Homo sapiens: one gene and its partners. The protein of the gene in region 1 purifies or fractionates together with the protein of each later gene. This does not show direct contact. Each region holds a gene or a part of one and is shown in the gene's direction. Other genes may lie near its edges. The genes, in order: ISOC2, ALAD, HBS1L, FH, GTPBP1, IFT172 and APIP.

The links.
Region 2: the proteins of ISOC2 (region 1) and ALAD purify together in Homo sapiens (affinity purification with mass spectrometry; 2 studies listed by BioGRID and IntAct, with this or other methods). This does not show direct contact.
Region 3: the proteins of ISOC2 (region 1) and HBS1L purify together in Homo sapiens (affinity purification with mass spectrometry; 2 studies listed by BioGRID and IntAct, with this or other methods). This does not show direct contact.
Region 4: the proteins of ISOC2 (region 1) and FH fractionate together in Homo sapiens (co-fractionation; one large-scale study listed by BioGRID). This does not show direct contact.
Region 5: the proteins of ISOC2 (region 1) and GTPBP1 purify together in Homo sapiens (affinity purification with mass spectrometry; 2 studies listed by BioGRID and IntAct, with this or other methods). This does not show direct contact.
Region 6: the proteins of ISOC2 (region 1) and IFT172 purify together in Homo sapiens (affinity purification with mass spectrometry; one large-scale study listed by BioGRID and IntAct). This does not show direct contact.
Region 7: the proteins of ISOC2 (region 1) and APIP purify together in Homo sapiens (affinity purification with mass spectrometry; 2 studies listed by BioGRID and IntAct, with this or other methods). This does not show direct contact.

What each region holds. Positions count from the first base shown.
Region 1 is NC_000019.10:55,452,485-55,455,563, reverse strand, and holds the end of ISOC2 (isochorismatase domain-containing protein 2), read left to right. Parts: intron 1-185; coding exon of another isoform or gene 186-233; coding exon 234-304; intron 305-457; coding exon 458-575; intron 576-2,175; coding exon 2,176-2,256; 3' UTR 2,257-2,579; downstream 2,580-3,079.
Region 2 is NC_000009.12:113,388,549-113,391,284, reverse strand, and holds part of ALAD (delta-aminolevulinic acid dehydratase), read left to right. Parts: intron 1-351; coding exon 352-487; intron 488-608; coding exon 609-692; intron 693-791; coding exon 792-880; intron 881-1,456; coding exon 1,457-1,512; intron 1,513-1,598; coding exon 1,599-1,686; intron 1,687-1,760; coding exon 1,761-1,847; intron 1,848-2,178; coding exon 2,179-2,308; intron 2,309-2,736.
Region 3 is NC_000006.12:135,044,823-135,048,322, reverse strand, and holds part of HBS1L (HBS1-like protein), read left to right. Parts: intron 1-3,500. UniProt on the Homo sapiens protein: GTPase component of the Pelota-HBS1L complex, a complex that recognizes stalled ribosomes and triggers the No-Go Decay (NGD) pathway.
Region 4 is NC_000001.11:241,506,256-241,509,755, reverse strand, and holds part of FH (fumarate hydratase, mitochondrial), read left to right. Parts: intron 1-970; coding exon 971-1,153; intron 1,154-3,500. UniProt on the Homo sapiens protein: Catalyzes the reversible stereospecific interconversion of fumarate to L-malate. Experiments in other species have demonstrated that specific isoforms of this protein act in defined pathways and favor one direction over the other.
Region 5 is NC_000022.11:38,712,444-38,715,943, forward strand, and holds part of GTPBP1 (GTP-binding protein 1), read left to right. Parts: intron 1-3,463; coding exon 3,464-3,500. UniProt on the Homo sapiens protein: Promotes degradation of target mRNA species. Plays a role in the regulation of circadian mRNA stability. Binds GTP and has GTPase activity.
Region 6 is NC_000002.12:27,479,744-27,483,243, reverse strand, and holds part of IFT172 (intraflagellar transport protein 172 homolog), read left to right. Parts: intron 1-1,983; coding exon 1,984-2,198; intron 2,199-3,094; coding exon 3,095-3,218; intron 3,219-3,500. UniProt on the Homo sapiens protein: Required for the maintenance and formation of cilia. Plays an indirect role in hedgehog (Hh) signaling, cilia being required for all activity of the hedgehog pathway.
Region 7 is NC_000011.10:34,906,380-34,909,879, reverse strand, and holds part of APIP (methylthioribulose-1-phosphate dehydratase), read left to right. Parts: intron 1-3,500. UniProt on the Homo sapiens protein: Catalyzes the dehydration of methylthioribulose-1-phosphate (MTRu-1-P) into 2,3-diketo-5-methylthiopentyl-1-phosphate (DK-MTP-1-P).

The sequences.
Region 1 (3,079 bases):
CTGACCAGAAACCTCCACTTCCCTGCAGGACCCCCATCCTGACCTGGGCCCTCTCTCCTCACCTGTGGGCCCCATCCTATCTTGGATCCCCTCCTGACCTGGGGGCCCCTTCCTCTGATCCGAGCCTCCCTCCTCCCCATTCTGGGCCCCTAATTCTGACTCACCATCCCCAATTCCTTACCCAGGACCCCCGTTCTTATCCGGGGTTGGCCCTGACCTCTCTCTACCCACAGAACACGACCCTGGACCTCCTAGACCGGGGGCTGCAGGTCCATGTGGTGGTGGACGCCTGCTCCTCACGCAGGTGAGAGGGCCCCTGCCTGGGTGGGTGCACGTGGGGGCCATCAGGGGCTCCCAGGAAGGGCCACAGGCGGCATTCCCACCAGGGTGCCTGCGTGTCTGGGTGTCCAGACTGCGGCGTCCACACCAACCTTCCCTCCCTCCCTCCCACTCACAGCCAGGTGGACCGGCTGGTGGCTCTGGCCCGCATGAGACAGAGTGGTGCCTTCCTCTCCACCAGCGAAGGGCTCATTCTGCAGCTTGTGGGCGATGCCGTCCACCCCCAGTTCAAGGAGGTAATGCCCGCCTGGCCGCCCCCACCTCCCCTGCATCTGTCAAAGGTCTTGTCTTTGGGCTCTGAGAATACATCTCGGCACCAGCAGGCTGCCGCCTCCAGGGGGAGCCAGGTTCTTGGAGGGGAGGCTGCTGGTCACTGTCACTGCCATAAATCCATGAAAGGAGCCCACAGATGGACCATAAGGGCCACAGAGAACAATAAAATGGGGGAGGCAATCCAGAGGGTCAGGGCACAGAGGAGGGGGTTTGTATTGGAGGGTCTGGGGGGCATCCTGGAGCAGGTGACTTTAGAATGAACTGAAGGAGGGAGTGACCAGGCGGACACTGGGGAAGAACAGGTCAGCAGAGACCCTCTAGATAGAAGCCCCTTGACCCGTCCACACCCATCTCCAACTCTCCATCTCCTCCGCCTCTGCCCCTTCCGGCCCGGGTGCCCCTCCTCCAGTTTCTCAGACTCCACTGGCCACCCTGCTACCGGGGTCAGCCAGGTACTGGGCCCCCCTGCTTCAAGCCATTGGCCCTCAGGATGCTGGAGAGGCCCCAGACCTTGACATTCCCAGGCCCTCCCAGGTCTGCTCCTTACCTTCCTTCTAGTTCAGCTCTGTGGGACATTCACCGAGCACCCACTCTGTGCCAGCCACTGTGGTGAGCCCTGGAGTCTGCAGCAATCCATGTTCAGTGACACATTGTGACCCCCAGCTGGGGCAGGAGTTGCAGAGGGATGAGCAAGAGTGGCAGAGGTGGCCCTGAATTCTGAGCTGCCGGGGAAGGGGGCATCAGGCACTCACAGTGTTCCCAGGGGAGGGGGACTGAGCTTTCTTTGAGGAGCTGTAGCAGGCCAGGGTGAGCACCACGCGGGAGGAGCCAGCAGCCTGTCTTCACGCAGGAGTCAGAGCCCAGAGGTTTGAGATTTCAGCCACGGGCAGCCATCAGGGTTTGATGCAGGGGAGCTGGCCATATCAGATCGGCAGTTTACAAAGTTCTTTCTGGCCCTGTGTGACCAGTGGATTAGGGAGTGTGGCATAGAGGGGAGGAGGGAGACCTGTCAGTAAGGAGGTTAATTTGGGCGCCCAGGCAAGCGGTGATGAGGCAGGGGGGATGCAGGCTTTTTTGTTGTTGTTGTTGTTTATTTATTTATTTATTTATTTTATTTTCTGGAGATAAACTTGCTGGGACTTGCTGATGGATGAAATGCGGTTGGTTGCTCATGTCTATCTAAGAGGCAGTTAGATAGATGAGTCGAGTTCAGGGGCAAAGTCCAGGCTGGATTTGTGAGCTGAGGGCCCAGAAGAGGGATGGGAGAAATGAGGTTACTTAAGAAGAGGAAGGTGTAGACAGGAAGCCCCAGCACAGAGCTGTCCACCCTTAGTGGTCCAAGCCCGCAAAGCACACCAAGATGGCAGGCAGTGAGGAGCTCAACCAGTCACGTGTAATGAAAGGGAGGCCCCAGGAAAAGTCTTGAGAAGAGGGAGTGTTGTCTTGGGCAGCTGCTAGCCAGAAGGTCCGAGAGATGAAGACGGAGAGGTGTCCCTCAGATTTGTCATCCATGGAGATCGGGACCCTAGACGCTTCCTGACCCATCGCCCCCTGCCCTTACAGATCCAGAAACTCATCAAGGAGCCCGCCCCAGACAGCGGACTGCTGGGCCTCTTCCAAGGCCAGAACTCCCTCCTCCACTGAACTCCAACCCTGCCTTGAGGGAAGACCACCCTCCTGTCACCCGGACCTCAGTGGAAGCCCGTTCCCCCCATCCCTGGATCCCAAGAGTGGTGCGATCCACCAGGAGTGCCGCCCCCTTGTGGGGGGGGCAGGGTGCTGCCTTCCCATTGGACAGCTGCTCCCGGAAATGCAAATGAGACTCCTGGAAACTGGGTGGGAATTGGCTGAGCCAAGATGGAGGCGGGGCTCGGCCCCGGGCCACTTCACGGGGCGGGAAGGGGAGGGGAAGAAGAGTCTCAGACTGTGGGACACGGACTCGCAGAATAAACATATATGTGGCTGTGGACCAAACCATTCTTGGGTTGGGGGGGATCCCGGGGGCGACTGGGGGCTGCAGGAGGGAGAAAGCGGGGTCCCCAGCAGGTGGGGGGGGGGAGGTGCCTCTTCTCGGCGCGAGGCAAAGGCGAGGGCTGGCGGCTGACACATCTGCACGGACGCGGCGCATCTGCTCGGAGGAGAACTGCGGCCGGGGTCGCCCCCAGCCGGCGCGCGCACGCCCAGCCCAGCTGCCGGCAGACACGCGCTCCGCCGCCGCCTCCGGCCGCCCCCCACGCCGCCACCCCCGGCTCCCCAAGGGTCCCGCATCCGGAAAGCGAGGTGAGCGAGACCGCACCCAGGTGCGGAAGGGAAACTGAGGCAAGGGGACATGGAGACGGGAGGAAGGAAGACACAGCCATGTGGATGGGTGGATGGATGGATGGAAGGATGGATGGACGGATGGAAGGAAGGGCTGAAAGCATTGTAGTCCCGGCTCCCCCAGACGCAGGAGTTCCGGGACCCACAT
Region 2 (2,736 bases), on another chromosome or scaffold:
GCTGCAGTGAGCCAAAATCGCGCCAGTGCACTCTAGCCTGGGTGACAGAGCAAGACCCTGTCTCCAATACAAACAGAAAAAGGAAGGGAGGTTGGGCAAAGGTGGACTGAGGGTCCACACTGACTGCACCCTCACTCCCACATTGTGCTGGCCCTGGGGCCACAGGTGAATGGACGTGGTCTTTGCCCTTAAGTCAGCACCCATGTAGGGTCAGTCCTCTGTGCTTCCTTATCCAGGGGCTGTGATGATGAAGGAAGGAGAAGGCCAGGGCTATGCTCTGTGATGGCTGTCATCCTGCCTTCCAAAGCTACATGTAATAGACACACTGCTTTGTCCCTCCCCTGCCCCTAGGACGAGCGGGGTTCCGCAGCTGACTCCGAGGAGTCCCCAGCTATTGAGGCAATCCATCTGTTGAGGAAGACCTTCCCCAACCTCCTGGTGGCCTGTGATGTCTGCCTGTGTCCCTACACCTCCCATGGTCACTGCGGTGAGTTCCCTCCCTCCCACCAGCCCTGCTGCCACCCACACTCCTACTGCCCACTTCTCAACAGGGTGGGGACAGGCCAGGGCCCAAGGTGCTCCCCAAAACCCAGTCATCTGTCCTGAAGGGCTCCTGAGTGAAAACGGAGCATTCCGGGCTGAGGAGAGCCGCCAGCGGCTGGCTGAGGTGGCATTGGCGTATGCCAAGGCAGGTGAGTGAACCACCAGCAGGGATGGGCACCTCTGGGTCAGGAGGTGGCAGAGTGGCTAGGAGGGCCCCAGAGTTCTGAAGGCCACCCTCTGCCCCCCAGGATGTCAGGTGGTAGCCCCGTCGGACATGATGGATGGACGCGTGGAAGCCATCAAAGAGGCCCTGATGGCACATGGACTTGGCAACAGGGTAAGGGCAGGGAATGCAGCACAGGGCTGGCAGGAGATAGTCTGCACCAGCCCTGCCCCCGTGTCTGCTAAGAATCACAGAACTGCCGGGCGTGTTGGCTCACACCTGTAGTCCCAGCACTTTGGGAGGCTGAGGCAGGTAGATCACTTGAGGTCAGGGGTTCAAGACCAGCCTGGCCAACATGGTGAAACCCCATCTCTACTAAAAACACAAAAATTAGCTGGGCGTGGTGGCAGGCGCCTGTAATCCCAGCTACTGGGGAGGCTGAGGCAGGAGAATCGCTTGAACCCACGAGGCAGTGAGCTGAGATCATGCCACTGCACTTCAGCCTGGATGACAGAGCTAGACTCCATCTCAAAAAAAAAAAGAATCACAGAACTGAAGACAGTGCTGGATGAGGCTTTGGGGAACCATTTAAACCTCTGGGCCTCTGCAGGGAAATCAAGCCCAGCACTCCAACAGGACCAGAACACAGGCAGTCTCCTTCCCAGCCTAGGTTCTTTCTCTCCCTGCCACATCACCCTGGGATACCTGGCAAGGGCCGAATAAGCCAAGACCTCCATTGTCTCCCCATAGGTATCGGTGATGAGCTACAGTGCCAAATTTGCTTCCTGTTTCTATGGCCCTTTCCGGTGAGCAGGGGTGGGCAGGGGTCTGCTGTGAATCCCTGGCCCTTTGGCCCAAAGCTGGAGCCCACCCTGATGACTCTGCTTTGCAGGGATGCAGCTAAGTCAAGCCCAGCTTTTGGGGACCGCCGCTGCTACCAGCTGCCCCCTGGAGCACGAGGCCTGGCTCTCCGAGCTGTGGTGAGTGACTAGGACTTGAGCCCCACCCTCAGCCCCCTCCTAGGCACCACCCACATTATACCCTCATCCCTTAGGACCGGGATGTACGGGAAGGAGCTGACATGCTCATGGTGAAGCCGGGAATGCCCTACCTGGACATCGTGCGGGAGGTAAAGGACAAGGTGAGCACAGGTACGAGGCAAAGGGGGCTCAGGGGGCTGGGACAGAGTTTTCCACAGACTCTGGAATCTCAGAGTTGGAAGCAGTTTGCCCTTAAGCATGCATCCTCTCCTCCCCTTCCCTGCCCAGGAACCATCGTGGCCTTCTATGTCGGGGCTTGCACGAGCCTCAAACAGCCCTGCTTTAACAGTTCAAGAGTGGGCCAGGCTGCCAGCCGCAGTAACCCAGGACACGGGGCTCAAGATGGTCACAGATTGAGCAGGGGGGAAGGGACGCTTCCAGAGCCACATCCACCCTCCATTTCAGCCTGTCTCCCTGTCTGCTTCCCTGCAGCACCCTGACCTCCCTCTCGCCGTGTACCACGTCTCTGGAGAGTTTGCCATGCTGTGGCATGGAGCCCAGGCCGGGGCATTTGATCTCAAGGCTGCCGTACTGGAGGCCATGACTGCCTTCCGCAGAGCAGGTAGGCAGGCAAGGGTGGGGTGTTTTGACCTGCGCCACAGGGACTGATAAGCACTCTGCCTAGATTGGGGAACGACGTCCTGAGAGCTTGGGATCTTATTCCGGGAATTACTAGTGATCTAAACAGACACACACTGAGGAAGAGATATGGAACTGCAGCATAGAACACGGCCCGGTGAAGCAAGCAGAGCCCTTCATTTTTGGTTGTGAGAACGTGGGCAAGCCACTTCTCTGAACCTCAGTGTCCTCACCCATAACTGGATAACTGGGGATAAGATACCTGGTGCGTGGTTGTCCTGAGGATTAAATGAAGTAATATCACTCCATAAAGGGGACTCATTTTGTTAGAATTGCACACCAGCATGGGAAGGAACTTGCCTCTTACCTATTTCCTTCACTGTGCATTTTATTCTTTGGTAAACTGAGGCC
Region 3 (3,500 bases), on another chromosome or scaffold:
AAGAGGCAAATTGAAGCTGGTTCTGGGAGTTTTGGAAAAACTGAAAACGGATATTAATTGCAGTTACTGGAAGAAACTGCTTCTGGAAGGTGAAGTGAGTATTGCTGGGGTGATACTGGAACAAGAAGCAAAAGGAAAGGAGCATGTGCCTGCCTTCTCTGGCTTTCCGGTGTCCCTTTCATATCTCCTTATTGGATGATCCTAAAAGGGAGCCGGGTATCAAAGAAGAAATGTGCTTTGCAGTGACTTCAATCCAGCATCACAAAGCTGAGTAAAGGATGGTAGGTTAGAAGCTGAGAGGTGGCTTAATAAGCAGCATTCCTTTATAGCTCCTTATTCAGGGGTTCAAAAGAGAAGACATTTTGTAGTGACTTAGGAATAAAACAATTTCACATTTTTCTAGGAACCTCCTAGGCATTTGCCCTTTGGGGCTCCTATAATTCAGCATCACAGTTGACTAGGTAACTTAAATATTAGAGGTGACAAAGTGATGTCTGGTAGTGCTATCCTCATCACTCACATTCTAAGCACATTAGAGAGCATGGCATATAGAACTGAGAAGATGATATGGTTATATTAGATTTGAGTTAAAAAAATCTCTAATACATAGTTAATGGATTAAAGGTGGTATATGGGTGGATGTAAGTAGACTCGTTAGGAGACTGTTATATGTATTTATCTAGAGGAGATGAGGCTATTTTAGGACAGTGTTCTCAAAGTGAACCATCAGCATCGCTTGAGAGTTTGTTAGAAATGCAATGTTGGGGACTCCACCCAAGAGTCAGAAACTAGGAGTGAGGCATAGCAGATGTTTTAACAAGCCCACTGGGGTATGCTCGTGGTATGCATTGAGAACCATTTGTTTAGGGCAAGAGTTGGTAGCATTGGATTTGGAAATACATTCAAGAGAAAATTTACAGGAGTTGAGGTCTGCAGGACTTGGAAGTTGGTTGAATATGGCTTTGTATAAGCGTGGAATCTTTCAGAGGGGGGATTACTGAAAGACACCTTAATATTGCAGGTTAACCCAGTCATTTATCTAGGCTTCTCTGGATAAATGTTATGTTATCTTGAATAATAAGGTAATAGTACAAAGTCAGACCTTCAAAGGGTGTTTCTCTGAGACTTGCATTTATGGCCTAGCTTCCTTGAGGACAGAGACGGAGTTTATCCATGTGTCTCTCATAGCTTTTGATGTGGCTCTTACCTGTGGTTTGTATTCAGGACAGTCTGACTCTGAGAGTTACTTTTCAAACACACCAAGAAGCCAACTGATCTTATCAAAGCAGGAGATAGTTAAATGTTTTTGGTTTCTTCTGTGACAAACTGATTTTTAACAAAAGCATACGACTTTGGATTTTTAAATTTTTCAAAACATTTTAAAATAGCAGTAACATCAGATAAGAAACTTACTTTCCTCTATAGTGGTATATTTTCCAAGTAATTTTCAATAAAAAATGAATGGTTTTAGAAGAATATTTTCTATTCTTAAGCAGCTAATGTCATTGAAAAGCTGATTGTATTCATGGTGTAATGAAGTCTGATAATTGAAAGACTTTATCAATTAATTGGAATTTCTTTCTAAAATTCATCAGCACGTGTATATTTTTTTGAATTCTATTAAGCTCAATTTTCCTGGTCTCACTATGCTGCCCAGGCTTGTCTCAAATTCCTGAGCTCCAGTGATCCTCCTGTGTCGGCCTTCCAAAGTGCCAGGATTATAGGTGTGAGCCACCATGCCCAGCCTAGGATGGTGATTTTTAAACGTTAACTTTTCTTTCTTTTAGAAAGATTGATACTGAGTATTGAACCTATGTCAAAGAGTAGGGGGTAGCAAAAGGAGTTTGCATATAAAACTTTATTTGAATGGTGATGTATTTTGTTTCAGCTAATATGATTAGAAGTAATCTTTGTTTGCTCCATTCTAATTTCACACCTTTATTGTATATTCTTTTTTTTTTTTGTAAGAAAAACACTATTCTAATACATTTATAAATTAGTTTGGTATAAGGAAGCTTGTTTAAAGTCTTGTTCAAATAACTTGCTACAACAGTACTGTGGGTAAAGAAAATAACCCTGACTGAAGGAGTCTGGGAAGGCTTCTAGAAGGAGGTGGGATTGAAGCTAGGAAATTTGGGAGTAAGAATGGCATCCCAGCTAGAGGAAACAACGTTGCTTAAGCAATGGCCTCTGAGTGAGGCTTGTTTCATCAGACTACCAGGATTAATGCAAGTGGCAGGAGGAAAGAGGGCTAGGAAAGAAAATAGGAATGAAATTGTGAAAGACAGTTTCTAATTTTGTGTTTTTAGTGTCAACTTATTGGAGTTTTTTGAGTAAGGGAGCTAGTATTTTGTGCAGATAACTGATCATGGTCCACAAAGTGGCGTATAGGTGGGCCAGAATAAAGGGGAGACTTGTAGTTCACCAGTGTTTCTTAATCTTACCTTGTGATATGAATCTGCTGGGAATCATTTTTTTTTTTTTGAGACGGAGTCTCATTCTGTAGCCTAGGCTGGAGTGCAGTGGCACGATCTCGGCTCACCTCAACCTCCACTTGGCTCCCAGGTTCAAGCAGTTCTCACGCCTCAGCCTCTCAAGTAGCTGGGATTGCAGGCGCCCGCCACCACGCCTAGCTAATTTTGTATTTTTAGTAGAGATGGGGTTTTGCCATGTTGGCCAGGCTGGTCTTGAACTCCTGACCTCAGGTGATCCACCTGCCTGGACCTCCCAAAGTGCTGGGATTACAGGCATGAGCCACTGTGCCTGGCCAGAATAATTCTTAAGAATACAAATTTCCTGCTTCATTCCAGCACCACTGAGTCATAATCTCCCGGGGAAGAAGCCTAGAAATCTGTATTTTTAATGAATGCCTCATGTGATTTTTATTTTAAGATGTTTAGGAAACCATTGTAGGAAGTTTCAGGTGTTAGGTTTTGAATTCTTTGCACTTTTATGTTTGTCAAAATGCCTTAAATTTTAAAAATTATAGGTGTCTGTTTTTTCAGAAGGCACTTCCATCAAAGTTTGTGATTTAAAATTTTAGAGAATAGCATTTTGTATTTACCATTTTCTCATCATTACTTTCTCTCACTCCTTTATTTGTTGTATTTGTTGCTTTTGGGGCTCTCAGTACAACTTCAGAGGTTTGGACCGCTCCCCACCTCACCCACCCACCCTTTGAAAGTAATGGAAAGACCTGCGGTTACTTTTGCAGCGACCCAATACTTCTCCTGGGGGAGTTTTCTTACTCTTCCCCCCACCCACCCTTTGCAAATCCAACCATTACTACTTCCAAAATAGTGGCCACAGTATGGGTTTTTGAGTTGGAGTTATGTGTTGGGTGTGTGTGGTCGTATAGGACCACCCTCGACCCCACCACAGAAAAAATAGCTCCTGGCAGGCAGAGGAGAAGCCTGTGCATTGAAAACTTCCTCTTCCCTGTCAGTATTTCCTGACTGAAACTTGTTGAGGGAAACATCTGATTTCATGCCTCACTTAGT
Region 4 (3,500 bases), on another chromosome or scaffold:
CACCCAGGCTGGAGTGCAGTAGAGTGAGCATAGCTCACTGCAGCCTGGAAATGCTGAGCTCCAGGGATCCTCATGCCTTAGCTTCCTGAGCAAGTGGGACCATAGGCATGCACCGCCATGCCTGGCTAACTTTAAAAATGTTTTCAGAGACAGGGTATTGCTCTGTGTTGCCCAGGCTGGTCTTAAACTCCTGGCCTCAATTGATCCTCCTGCCTCAGCCTCTGAAAGTGCTGAGGTTATAGGCATGAGCCACTGCACCCAGCTTGATATTATGTTTTAAAAGTACAGGGTCAACAGTTGAGGAAAGAGCACTGAGTATATACTACCTGGCTAGGTCTCAGGTTTGCCAGTTGCTAAATATTTTGGCATTTATACAGTCTCTTTGAGGGCTTGGCTTTCCTATTTTTAAAGTGGTAATCTACCTCACAGAATTTTTCTAAACTTAATAAAGAGCTGTTTATGAAAGACTGTATGCACTGTATAATTGTAAGATATTCAATTATAAGATTTTATAAGAATATATAATTCAATAATTGATGTAATTTGATATAATTATAAGATATTCAACTACATTGAAGATACTACTGCTGTCTTCAAGTGCAGTTGTTAACTATACTTCTCTGTATTTTGCTGTCATTTATTAGCAGGCAGATATAATACGTAATACATAATATAATACATAATATATTATATAATACATAATATAATATAATACGTAATACATATATAATACATAATACATTCAGTATACTTAATGTGTATAATACAGTTCTGAGTATGTGTTAGAAACCAGGATGCTGCTTATTTGATTCTATAATAACTCACCTATGACATGCCACACATACATGTAACTGAGCTGGGTTTTGAGTAGTTAGTTGGAGAGTTTTTTAATTGAGAAGTTTAATTCAGAAGTTTGTTTTTGTTGCCTCTGATTTAACATTTTATATTTCTTTTGAAAAATTTCCAACAGAGCTCAAATGATACTTTTCCCACAGCAATGCACATTGCTGCTGCAATAGAAGTTCATGAAGTACTGTTACCAGGACTACAGAAGTTACATGATGCTCTTGATGCAAAATCCAAAGAGTTTGCACAGATCATCAAGATTGGACGTACTCATACTCAGGATGCTGTTCCACTTACTCTTGGGCAGGTATAGGAGTTTGACTAATTTGATTCAATTTAGAGCTTGGTACAAATGGCCAATGTGTCATCCTTGAAATCTGACTAGCTTAAAAGGCCAAATTTGTAACCGGAAACTTCAGTGACAGAGGTTGTTCTGTTCAACCAATCAGTAATTTTCATTGACATCCACTTAGAAGAAAAGCAGAGTATACTGGCTATAAGTCAGATTCAGTCAGACTGCTCGGGTTCAAATCTTAGCTTTGCTGTGTACAAGCTATGGGACCATAGGAAAGTCATTTAGCCTTTCTGTGCCTCAGTTTTCTGAGCTACAAAATGAGGAAAATAATTTCCCTTTCATAGGATAGTTGTGAAGCTCTAGTAAGTTGATTTATGTAGAGTGCTTAGAAGCATGCCTGGCACACAGTAAGTACCCATTCATGTTAGCTACCATCATCACCACCGTCATCGCTGTCATCTCCATCAGTATCATCATGGTTTTTCTTTTGTCTTTCTTACCTAAATTAGTAGGTTATTTAAAATTTAATCTCAAAGTGATTAAATAAGGTAGATCTTTTTAAGATGGATCTGGCCGCATGTGAAGGAGATACTACTCTCTTCTCCAAGATATTAGAAAGTATTTTCATGTTTCTTTTTCAATGCCTTAAGGAATATCTAATAGTATACATTGTGAAGGAAATGTAAGGAAATACAGGGAATGACTTTTGTCTTAGTAAACTCACACTCCAATTGGGGTAGCTTAATTTCCTTATGGAAGGAATGAGGAAAACTTGAAATGAGTAATTGAAAAACAAATGATGGGACTAAATTGAACTCACTGGATTGAGTTGCTTCTTAAGGCTGTGTCTCATTTCTCTTTGCATCATTAGTACTTAGGACCATGCATAATTTCTAAGGAGGAACAGTATGTATGTTTTGAAACTTTTGAATATTTCTCAAGTTTCTAATTTTAACCTTTTTTTGGTGTTGAAAACTACAATACTAAATACCATTTGGGCCATGACTCAGCCTCCTGTGTAAAATCATCATTCTTCCTGTTAAGACAGAAAATTACATTTTTCTGTTTGACTTTATCAGAAGCATTTATACTTGCTTTTATTGGGATTGTCTTTTGAGTTCGTGCATTGTTCCCTGTCAAAGTGTATTTTATAAGTGAATCTATCTAGTGTGTTTGTGTGTGTGTGTATACATACAGTCATGTGTTGCTTAGCAATGGGGGTATGTTCTGAAAAATGCATCCTTAGGCAATTTCATAGTTATGTGAACATCACAGAGTATACTCACACAAACCTAGATGGTATAGCCTTCTATACACCTAGGCTATATGGCATAGCCTTTTCCTCCTAGGCTACAAATCTGTGCAGCATGTTACTGCATTGGATACAATAGGCAATCGTAACACAATGGTAAGTATTTGTGTATCTAAACATATCTAAATGTAGAAAAGGTACAGTAAAAATACGGTTTTATAATCTTAGGGTCCCACTGTTTATGTGATCTTTCGTTGGCTGAAACATCATTATGTGGTGCGTGACTGTATATGAGTGATGTTATATCAGATGCATCAGGTCTACCTATAATGAGTTATATCTTTTGAAATGTTTTCTTTAGAACAGTATGGCATCCTGTCACTTATGGTTTTTTAGTGTTTTCAGGCAGGAAAAAAGGATAGATTTAGTGTAACCATGTATCTTGGTTTGTCCAGTTAACTCCCAGTGTATGCCTTTTGTTTCTGCATGACTATTAATAGAGCCCTTTCTGTGTTCAAAACATAAATTCTGTGGTTGCTTTAATTAAGGCATGTCAAAATTTGGAACCAGTGTTGACATTGGCACATTGATGCTATGATCTGACTCTACCGTTACCTCCTATTCTTTTTGGAAGGTCCTTCAATGCAAACTGTTACCTTCCTGTGCTATTCAGTGAGTCATTAGCTTCCCAAGTCTCTGTAGAATGTCTTCATATTTCCTGGTAGGTTTATACACTGAAATTGTATGGAGAATATTTCTATGTTTGCATTTTTTTGGGGGAGATGAGTTACTATTTTTTCTTACACCAAAGTTGTCTGAGGCATCCCAAAAAATAAGAAATCACTTCAGTTTCTTTAGTAGACTGCAAGTAAACCAATAATTTAGTGTAGTAAAGTTGTTCTTTTTAAAGTGTATTTCCTGTGCTGTTTTTCTTTGCTTCCTATTAAAAGACTAGATTATAATAAATAGGCTGCATGTTATCAGTGGCATTGTCGTACCTTATGGTTCTATAAACCCTCATCCTTCCCTATACTTTGCTCATCATAAGATTTGAAGTAGTATAAATAAAACTTGATTAGCTTGTAATTTAGTATTCTGAAAGGTATT
Region 5 (3,500 bases), on another chromosome or scaffold:
GGTCCTTAAATGCCATGCCAAAGAGGTTAGACTTTTATTCTGAGAGTCTAGGGAGTCTTTGCAGCCTGTAGAAGAGGAGAATACATATAAGAAAAGTGAATGAGCCGGCAGGATGGAAATCTGATTAGCGTCTGGCATGGCTGAGTATGTGGCCTTTAGTAATTGGACCTCTGCAGCTTTTCTCCTCCACCTTTGTCTCGGCTTCCACAGAGTGAGGAATGTGATGCATGCTGGAGACGGGTAATGTGACTGACCGAGAGCCCTGATGGACAAGGTGACGTTGGTGATAGCCCTTGGTGTGGAACAGGACCTGAAAGAACAGGAGCAGGGGAGGTTGAATAGAATTTAGCCAGCCTTCTTAGGAACACTCCCAGCAAACCCTTCTCTAACCCTGAAGGCTTTCACAGCTCACTTTGCCGTGCATTTAGAAACTCCTCAGCCCAACCGCTCCCTCTTTGTTCATTTGTTTTACATTTTACAAACATTTGAGGAAAGGCACTGGTTGTGGGGCATCAGGAAATTGTTGCGGTATGTTCCTTGTTTTCAAGATGCTTATGTATTGTGCGGGGAGGGGAGGATGTGTATCCAAAACACTGTTGCACAAGGCAGTACATTGCAAATGTAAGGGAGACACAGACATTTGTGGGCAGAATGAGTAGGATTTTGCTAGGAGGAGGTGCGCTGTTGGGCTTTCAGGATAGGAAATCCATGAGCAAAGGTGTAGAGCTAGGACCCTGCAGAGAACCCCAGCACAAGGAAGGGGAGTGCTGTGTGTGTGATGGGGCCACTTGCACCATGACAGAGCTTACAAGAAGAAAGTGAGGAGGGAGTACGGCACAAATGGGGAGGCTGTTAAGCAGTTGGGCCTGGGGAGCCATTCATAAGCTTTGACTTGAAGTGACGGCGTCAGAGTTGTGCTTTATTTAGGACCTTAAGGGGTTGGTTGGAGGGAATAGAGACTGAATTTGTAAAGACAAAAGTTAAGAGTCTGTTGTGGTGGTTCAGGTAGAATAACAGCCTGAATCAGGCTGGTGGCTGCGGATTGGCAAAAAGGGCAGACATCAGGGAAGGAGGCAAGGTAAAATGCTAGAATCATCAGGACTGGACTGAGGAGACTGGTGGCTAGAGAGATGGTATTGTCATTGTCAGAAATAAAGAAGGAACTGGTCAGGCAGTAAGAGGAAAAGGCTCTGGTTTTGGAATCTGAAGACCTGAACTCATGGCCTCCCCCAAGCTCTGAGATCTCCCTAGGTTCTTTTTACCCCACTGTTAAAAGGGAACAGTAATGCCTACCTCATAAGATTACAGTGAGAAATAAAATGCTTTATTAACATTGTTAGTGTCTGTGCTGTTGTTTAAAAGAGGGTTGGGTTGGGTGTTGAGTTTGGATATCAGACTTCTAGGAGTTATCCAGGCAATTGGAAATTCAGTCTGGAGTTCTGGGCATAGGATGGTGTTAGAAATGAGTGTTTTTATAGTTTTCAAAATGACAGCCAAAGCCATAGAACAAGATGGCCAAGGGGAAAGTTTGGAGGAAACAGAACAGGGCCACTGACAGACTACTGGAAAAAACTGGCATTCAGGAGACAAGAGCGGGGGACGGGGTGGGGAGGCACATCAGGAGAGGTCAGGTGATGCGTGAGCAGGGTGGGAGGGAAGTGCTTCAAGAGGGAAAGGCTGAGTGGCCAGCAGTATCGAATGCTGTAGGAGTCAAGAAGAGGGCATTAGAGAGTTTAGAAGGCCACTGGTGGGCCAGGCATGATGGCTGACGCCTGTAATCCCAGCACTTTGGTGGGAGGCCAAGGCGGGCAGATCACTTGAGGTCAGGAGTTCGAGACCAGCCTGGCCAGCATGGTGAAACCCCGTCTCTACTGAAAATACAAAACTTAGCCAGGCATGATGGCGGGCGCCTGTAATCCCAGCTACCTGGGAGGCTGAGGCAGGAGAATCGCTTGAACCTGGGAGGCAGAGGTTGCTGTGAGCAAGGATTGTGCCACTGCACTCCAGCCTGGGTGACAGAGTGAGACTCCATCTCAAAAAAAAAAAAAAAAAAAAAGGCCACTGGTGGCATGTGACAACTGCGGTTTCTTCTGTAGTGGGCAGATTCCCATTGAGTAGATGGTGGGATAGTACAGTCAACACGCGTTGATGACTCTCGAGATGTTTGATGGTGAAAGGAAAAACAGGAGATGGTAGCTTTGCAGATAAGCAGGGGCAAGGGAAGGGGGGTGGTTTTCCTTTCCTTAGTTTAGGAGCTTGTTTGGAGTGGGAGGAAGAGAAGAAGAGACAAGGAGAATATTTGGTGCGGGGGAAGAGAGTCACACATGCTGAAGGGGTTAGCCAGCCAGGGAAGGAGCAGGGGTGCTCTCAGAGACAGGACAGCTGGGAAAGGCTGAGGGAGTGATTGTGGAAATTAAATCCAGCACCTCATGGAAAGCAGCTGACGGGTTGTCATATAGTAGGAGCTCAGTAACTGTTTGGTCGGTTGGTCCTGCCTTCTGTCTGATTCCCTTCCTTGTCCTGAGCTCAAACTCATTTCTCCAGCTGCTTGCTGGACATGTCACCTGAGCCACCTCAGTTAAAAATCTTATCTCTAAAATGTTTCTGAGTTCCTCCCCCATTTTCCTCCATCTTTCTGTCGTCATTATCTCTTGCCTGCATTATTAGAATTACTTCCTAACTGGACTCCCCCCTTACTGGTCTCTCACTTGCTGGTGCACACTTGGCACTGCTACTCAGGAGATCTTTCTAACCCACAGCCATCTGATCATGTTACTCCCCTGCCTCAGCCTACGGGTGTCTCAATGCCTGGTGCAGAAGGTGTGTCGCTGCTGTCCGTCTGTTGTGCTGCTTCCACCTCTCATGTAGTCTCCCGACACTCCATGTCACCCATGCTGCTCCTCAACACACTGAGCTGCTTCCTGGTCCCTGAACTTGCCATGATCTGCCACGCCACGCTTTGTTCCTCTGGCTAGGATGTCCTTCCTCCTTCTGCAGGCCCAGCACTTGTTGACCTAGCTTGGCATCAGCCCTTTGCAGAACTGTCCTCGGCTTCCCCAGGCAGTGCTTTATGTTCTCTTCACACAGTCCTAGAGTGCAGCACTTGAGCTGTATTGCAATTAATTAATTTCCTGTCTGCCTCCCCCACTGGGCTGTGAGCTCACTAGGGGCACCTGTAGTCCTAGTACCCAGCATGAGGCTTGGCATAAAACCTGGGAGAGCCTCGGTGGCTGTTGTTGAATGAAGTAGCGAATGCTCTGCTTGATGGAGAGGTCTGTGGCACTGTCATGTTTTAACTTGGTGTGTGCCCAGGTTTTCTCTCAGGTAGAGAGGACCCCTGTTCCTCTGCAGTGCTGGGGTCGGGGGGTGGTGGCCTTTGTTAGGTGGGGTTCCTGGCTGGCTGGTTGGCAGGCTGGTTGGTCAGGACTCCCTCTCCTGCTGATGTCTGGGCTCTTGTCACCAGATGGGACTGAGTATGGGCTGAGTGAAGCTGACATGGA
Region 6 (3,500 bases), on another chromosome or scaffold:
GGAGTTTGAGACCAGCATGGGCAACACAGTGAAACCCTGTCTCTACCAAAAAAACAAAAAATAAATACAAAAATTAGTCGGGCATGGTGGCATGGGCCTGTAGTCCCAGCTACTCAGGAAGCCGAAGTGGAAAGATCACTTGAGCCCAGGAGGTTGAGCCTGCAAGTGAGCTGAAATAGCACCACTGCACTACAGCCTGGGTGACAGAACAAGACCGTGTCTCAAAAAAAAAAAAAAAAAAAGATGCTGTGGAATAGGGGATAAGGAAATTCCAGGAGCCCTCCTAGAGGAGGTTGGACTTCTAAGGCATTTGGATTGAGATACTAAGAGAGGAAGCTAGAGGAGAACTCAGGGACAGAGAAAAAGTTGGATGTGGCCACTGAGAGGATTTGTGTTTAGGAGCCTGGAGCTTACTGCTTATAAGAAGGGATGAATTAGGTGAAAGGGACCTTGAGACAAAGGGAAATAAAAACTCTTAGAGTAATGAAAAGTGAAAATTATTCCCATTTATGTAAAATATATATATTTATGTATGTAGATTCATAGAAAAAAGAGTTAATAGTTTACTCTGGAAAGGGGAAAGGAAAAAGATGGGGGATAAAAAGGAAACTTTCATGTTTTACTCTATATAATTGTGTGTTGTTTGAATCATTTACATTAAGAATTACTTGTGAGCCGTGCCTGTAATCCCAGCACTTTGGGAGGCCGAGGCGGGTGGATCACCTGAGGTCAGGAGTTGGAAACCAGCCTGACGTGAAACCCGTCTCTACTAAATACAAAAAAATTAGCTGGGCGTGGTGGCACATGCCTGTAATCCCAGCTTTCTGGGAGGCTGAGGCAGGAGAATCGCTTGAACCTGGGAGGCAGAGGTTGCAGTGAGCCAAGATCGCATGCCATTGAACTCCAGACTGGGCAACAAGAGTGAAATGCCATCTCAAAAAAAAAAAGAATTACTTGTATAGGCCGGGCACAGTGTCTCACTCCTGTAATCCCAGCACTTTGGGAGGTCAAGGCGGGTGGATGACCTGAGGTCAGGAGTTCAGGACCAGCCTGGCCAACATGGTGAAACCCCGTCTCTACTAAAAATATAAAAATTAGCCGGGCATGGTGGAACGTGCCCGGAATCCCAGCTACTCGGAAGGCTGAGGCAGGAGAATTGCTTGAACCCGGGAGGGGAGGTTGCAGTGAGGTGAGAACGCGCCACTGCACTGCAGCCCCGGCGACAGAGTGAGACTCCATCTAAAAAAAAAAAAAAAGAAGAATTATTCGTATAATACTGAAATTTGACCCTCCTTAAAAAAAGAAGCCCTATGCTCTTTGTGGGCCCAGACGGTGTTGGTTAATGTGTAGCACATCTCCTTTTCTGAGGAGCTTTACCAGGTGCATATTAAAAATTTCCAATACATGCTGGGCGTGGTGGCTCACGCCTGTGATCCCAGCACTTTGGGAGGCTGAGACGGGCTGATCACAAGGTCAGGAGTTCGAGACCAGCCTGACCAACATGGTGAAACCCCATCTCTACTAAAAACAGAAAAATTAGCCTGGTATGGTGGCACACACCTGTAATCCCAGCTACTCAGGAGGCTGAGACAGGAGAATCGCTTGAACCTGGGGAGGCGGAGGTTGCAGCGATGAGATTGTGCCACTGCACTCCAGCCTGGGCGGCAGAGTGAGACTCTGTCTCAAAAAAAAAAAAAAGAAAAAAGAAAATTCCAATATACAAGCATTTTGAGGTTTTTCTAGAGCACAAGGTCAACCCCTATGTGTATAGGGGTGTGTGTGTGTGTGTATGTGTGTGTGTGTGTGTGTGTGTGTGTGACAATTTGTGAAGAGTTCAGGATTAGGATGTGTTGGGATAGGGAAATGTTGGAAGAGATTTCTGCAGGGTATGATGGTCAGAGTGAATGTACCAGGTGTTGAGAGTGAGGAATTTCTCGGGTGGAGTCTTCGAAGAGTGATTGAAACCCTCTACTTCTGTCTTAGGGGAAGTTGGTTAACCACCCGTGTCCACCCTATGCCTTGGCATGGGCAACCAATAGCATCGTGGCTGCAGGCTGTGATCGGAAAATTGTAGCCTATGGAAAAGAAGGTCACATGCTACAAACTTTTGATTATAGCCGTGACCCTCAGGAGCGGGAGTTCACCACAGCTGTATCAAGTCCTGGGGGCCAGTCTGTTGTGCTAGGAAGTTATGACAGGTAAGTCCCCTTTCCAGTTTTATCTACTGCCTACTTTCCCTGCGAACACTCTCTGCTTTAGCCAAATTATTCTGAGCCAGAGTGCGAGACTGGAGCAGAATCAAATGTATGTATGTAATTCATGCGCTTTCCTCTTCCTGCTCCCGCTATCCATTGGTGTGCTGGCAGTTCCAAAATGTCCTGGGCTCTTGTTTTGTCTCTGTGCCGCTCCCTGCACTTCCACAGCAGAATTCATCTCTATTTTCTGTTTCCATTGCCCCCTTTGAGACCGCTTAGAGTTTCTCACATTATATTACAGTTTGTTGTTTGCAAACTACTGTTGTTTAGCCAGATAGATGGCTAAATCAGAGTCCTTGAGAAGGGGGCTTATTATTCATCTTTTCAGTGCCTAGATTAGCATCTATATGCTATATATATTTAAGATATGCTCAGATGTTTGGCGAATGAATGAATGAATGATGGAACAGCAGATAAACAGCCATGTTCCAGGTCTCATCATTTCTCTGGCATGTGTTTAACCCCAGCTTTATCAGTCCTGTCTTTCTATCCCCTTCAATCTTATGTCTCCTTGTATTCTCTTCTTTCTTCACTGACTCCTACCATTTATCTCCTTGTTCCATATTTTTTTGCTCCTAGTAGCTTATTTTTCTCACCTGCCCTGGTCTTTTTGTTTTCTCTGCTCCCCTCACTCTTATTCTGTTTTAGTTTTGCCTTGATTTTCCCAGCTTATTTCCTGTGCACCTTTATATCCTCTTCTGCTAGACTGCCTAGCTTGTCTGTTCTTTTTATTTCCTTTCTTTTCTGATATAGCAAGACTAATTTCCTTTGGTTATCAGCCCATTTGCACTCTTTAGCTCAGCCTCAATCTCTTCTAAAAGCCACATACTTTATTTCAGGCTTCGGGTGTTCAACTGGATCCCTCGAAGAAGCATCTGGGAAGAGGCAAAGCCCAAGGAGATTACCAATTTATACACCATCACTGCCTTGGCCTGGAAGCGGGATGGCTCACGGCTCTGTGTGGTGTGTTACTAGTAATCCCTTTCTGGATTGGTGACTTTCACCAAACTAGAAAAAAATCCTGCCTTATCCTAAAGCACTGTTCCCTGACACTATAGAATCTCCTCTTTCCTTTTGACCCTGACCTAAAATTCTGGCATTAAAGGCAGGAAAGAGAAATTCATACTTTACCCTAGGTCACAAAAGGGACAAAAAATTGTGTGTAGGCAGGGCTAGTTTTTCCCTTTTATCCCATTAATATGTTGTGCCCTTGAGTCCAATGATTGTAGCCTCTTTCCTTTTGGT
Region 7 (3,500 bases), on another chromosome or scaffold:
CCAGCTTCTCTCATTTCATGAAAGGCAAGAAGCCCAGTTCCTCCACTAGAGCTCAGGATCTCCAAGCCCTCTCACCTTCTATAATTATTTCTCTCCTTCTCCCCGTGTCTCCTATTAGGAATCATTTCCTTTCTGGTAAGACTGTTGTCATCAGCTTTCAAGCCCTTCCACATCTTGCCCCTACAAATTTATCTTCCGCCACCCTCAGCACTTCCTCACTCTGCTCTAGCCAACTGATCTTCCGCCTGTGAAGTACTTGCTCACTTCAGAGCCTTCACACCTGCTGTTTCCTCTGCCTGGAGTACTTGCCTCTCTCAACACAAAACCTTGCACACACACACGTACTCATTCATCACACACTGGCTTAGTTCATGTCTTTTAGGTCCTAGATTAAATGCCACCTGCTCAGAGAGGCCTTCCTTGACTGCGTTAATCAAAGTTGATCCCTGCCGTTTTTCTCCAAGTCCCATGTTTCTTTCCTGCTTGGCACTTTTTACAGTTTATTTATGTATTCTGTTTACTTTTTAAAAACTCCTCCCCAGAGTGTGAATTCTTTTAGGTCAGGCCCTGGGAATTCAGGTCCAGTTTATAGCTGAATTCCCAGGGCCTAGAAGAGTGTTCAGCACATGGTAATGTTTCTGACCCACATCCCAGGGAACGATATCATCCACTCAGCTACTCAGCTGACCACACACTTGGGAGTCTTTGAAGCCTTCGTTTGTCTCCTTCAGTTTTCTCACCCCAAGTCCTTCATCTTCCAAATGCATCTTCACAGTCCCTTCCTTCCAGCTTCCTTTTTAAACTCTTTCAGCAGCCTCCCTGCTCTTCTGGGCTTTTGCTTTCTTGACCACTGCCTTTCAGCCTCTTTCGTTTACTGACACTGTGCAAATGTTTCCAAAACAGACTCTTATCACATATCTTACGTTTCAAACTCTTTGGTGGTTTTCAATCATCCATGAAATATAGGTCAAAGCCCTGTGCATAGCATAGAAGACCCTTTAGACTCAGCCTCCCTTTTACCTCCATCCTGCAGAACCTAATTTATAACCACTTCCAGCTACTAAGCATTCTTTCTGACTGAAATGCCCTTTCTCCTCTTCACCTACCCAGCATATACTCCCACCGTCCTTCATTAAGACAGATATAAGAAATACCAACATAGAACAGACTACTGGTGTTAATTCAGAAGTCTGGAGATCACTGATCCAGATTATTAATAGAAGGAGACTGATGCCCAGAAAGTATCACTGACTTGCCTTAGGGCACACAGCTAGTGGGGTCCAAGCTAAAAACAGGCTCCATGTCTTCTGATTTCTAGTCAACACTTGACTGATGAGGAGGAGGAGGGTTTTTAAGTGTGGTGAAGGTAGAAGAGAGAGCTGGGGCATTCAAGTAAAGAAAACCAAGATGCATAGAGAGACAAGTGCAACAAGTGTGCAGAATGAAACGAAGACCAAGGACAGAGAGAAAGTATGACTCATCTTTACTGTGCCTGCATTCAGTCCCTTCCTGAGCCCAGTGTCAGGAAAATAAGTGAAAGACTTTGAAACAAACAAAAAGAGTATTTACTGGGTATCTTGGAGTTATTATTATGCTATTTTACAACTCTCAGTTGTGGAATCCTGGCAGTTAACGCAGGTGATTGTTGTTCATGGAAATGCAAGTTGTGTTCAATGGAGATTCATTTTATTGTTAACCTGTGGACAGTATCCAGTTTTGCTAAGTCAGGATTCCTCGTTACTTATATTATGTATGTTTTGAATTCTCCTTTTGAATCAGTTGTAACATCTTACTAGTTTCCCCATTTATTGATGAGTTACTAATCTCATGCATGTTATTTTATACTTGTATGAGAGTCTTCCAGGAAAACCTGTATCTGAGGAATATATGCCTATATTTGCTTAAGTTGAAAGAAAAGATGGGGGAGGGGATTAGAGCCATTGTTGGCTGTGAGTAGTATCTCGGAGACAAGCCAGGCTGATTTCCTTAAAATAACTAGATTGAAAAATTGGAAAAATTAATACCAAATCAAAACTTGTTAGACATTAATGATTTTGATATATACAAAATGCTGTTAAATGTGTTTCCTCCTCACTGTAGAACCTCTACTATAAATAGTTGATTGTAATCAATCTTTAGATACACATTTCAAAATTATTATTATAACTGAAAACCAGATCTAACAATAATAGGAAAGTAATATTGACATTCAGGAGAGAACTAGATACCAATTGAACCTTTCCTTCTTGTCAATTCTTGTTAAAATATATGTTCTGGTAGTTACTTTCTTCTGGACAGTTTAAATGACTTCATTTTCACCAAGTATATCTCTGTTGGTGCCTGCTAAGTGATAATCTCTTTGAAATTTTAATTTTATGGGTCTCAAGGATTGAAAATGTATTAACAGCAGCTGCCTTGTCATTGTTATTGCTTTAGCTTGAAGCTGGCTAATTGCTGTAATATCGCAGCACTGGAAAAGACAAAAGAGAAAGGGGAGACCTGTAATAAAAGACCATTTTCTGTAATGTGTGCTATTTGCTGTGCAAATTGATGGTTTTAAGGGTTGGAAGACTGCAGGAGTCTTCCCATTAGCTGTACTTTAAAATGTAGTTAAAATATCACTTATATCCCTAAATAAGGAAGTAGCAAATTATACAGGCATAGGTAATTTGGGCTAGATTTCTTAAGGACGGATATAAGAAATACCAACATAGTTTTTCCTTAATAACTCCTGTAATATTCCCTTCCTGAGGAGATGTCACCCTAACTGCTGTTAGGGGGTTTTGGGCAAGAACTCTTTCTGGCTACTTCCTGCCGAAAAGGGACATCAAGTGGGGAACAACAGCTAGGGCTCCTCCTGGGGTTGATCTAAGGGTCCTCGGAAGAATGGCACGTCCACGTGTGGTTCGGTTTGCAGCACCATTTGGATTGATTGCTTCTAGGCAAGAGGAAATGATTTGAGTTATAGTATTGAGTATGCAAGGTCCAAATATTAATACAAGACATATAAGTAGGAGTGGACTTAATAAAGGAGCTAACCAATTCCATAAAGAAGACTAGAATTCATTAAAGAGGAATTGTAGCCACCCGGGGCTGAAGCCTGCGTGTTCTTGTAGCCTCTTAATGATTTTGATTTGATCTTTAGGTAGCTGTAGATTTTCCTCTGCTTTACTAGAGGTGTTAATCCAGAAGCAGCATGTTTCATTTATAAGTGCACAGGTACCTCCTACTTCAGCTGTGAGGACGTCTAAGCCCCGTCTATTCTGTGCTGCTACTGTGGTGAAAGAGTCTGTAGATTGCTGTCGTGCCTCTATGGTACCTACAGTTGCCTTCCACCCTTGTTGCATCATAATAGAAATAGTAAGTACTGATCTTTCAAGGAGAGGGAAGCCCGTAATCCAGACTAGACCTCTGGCTATAGAATTTCCCATTCATGGTTTTTCTAAGATGGGATTGTCATGTGCATGCCCTCCCCAGTCTGCTCTTTCAGTTAAATCTCC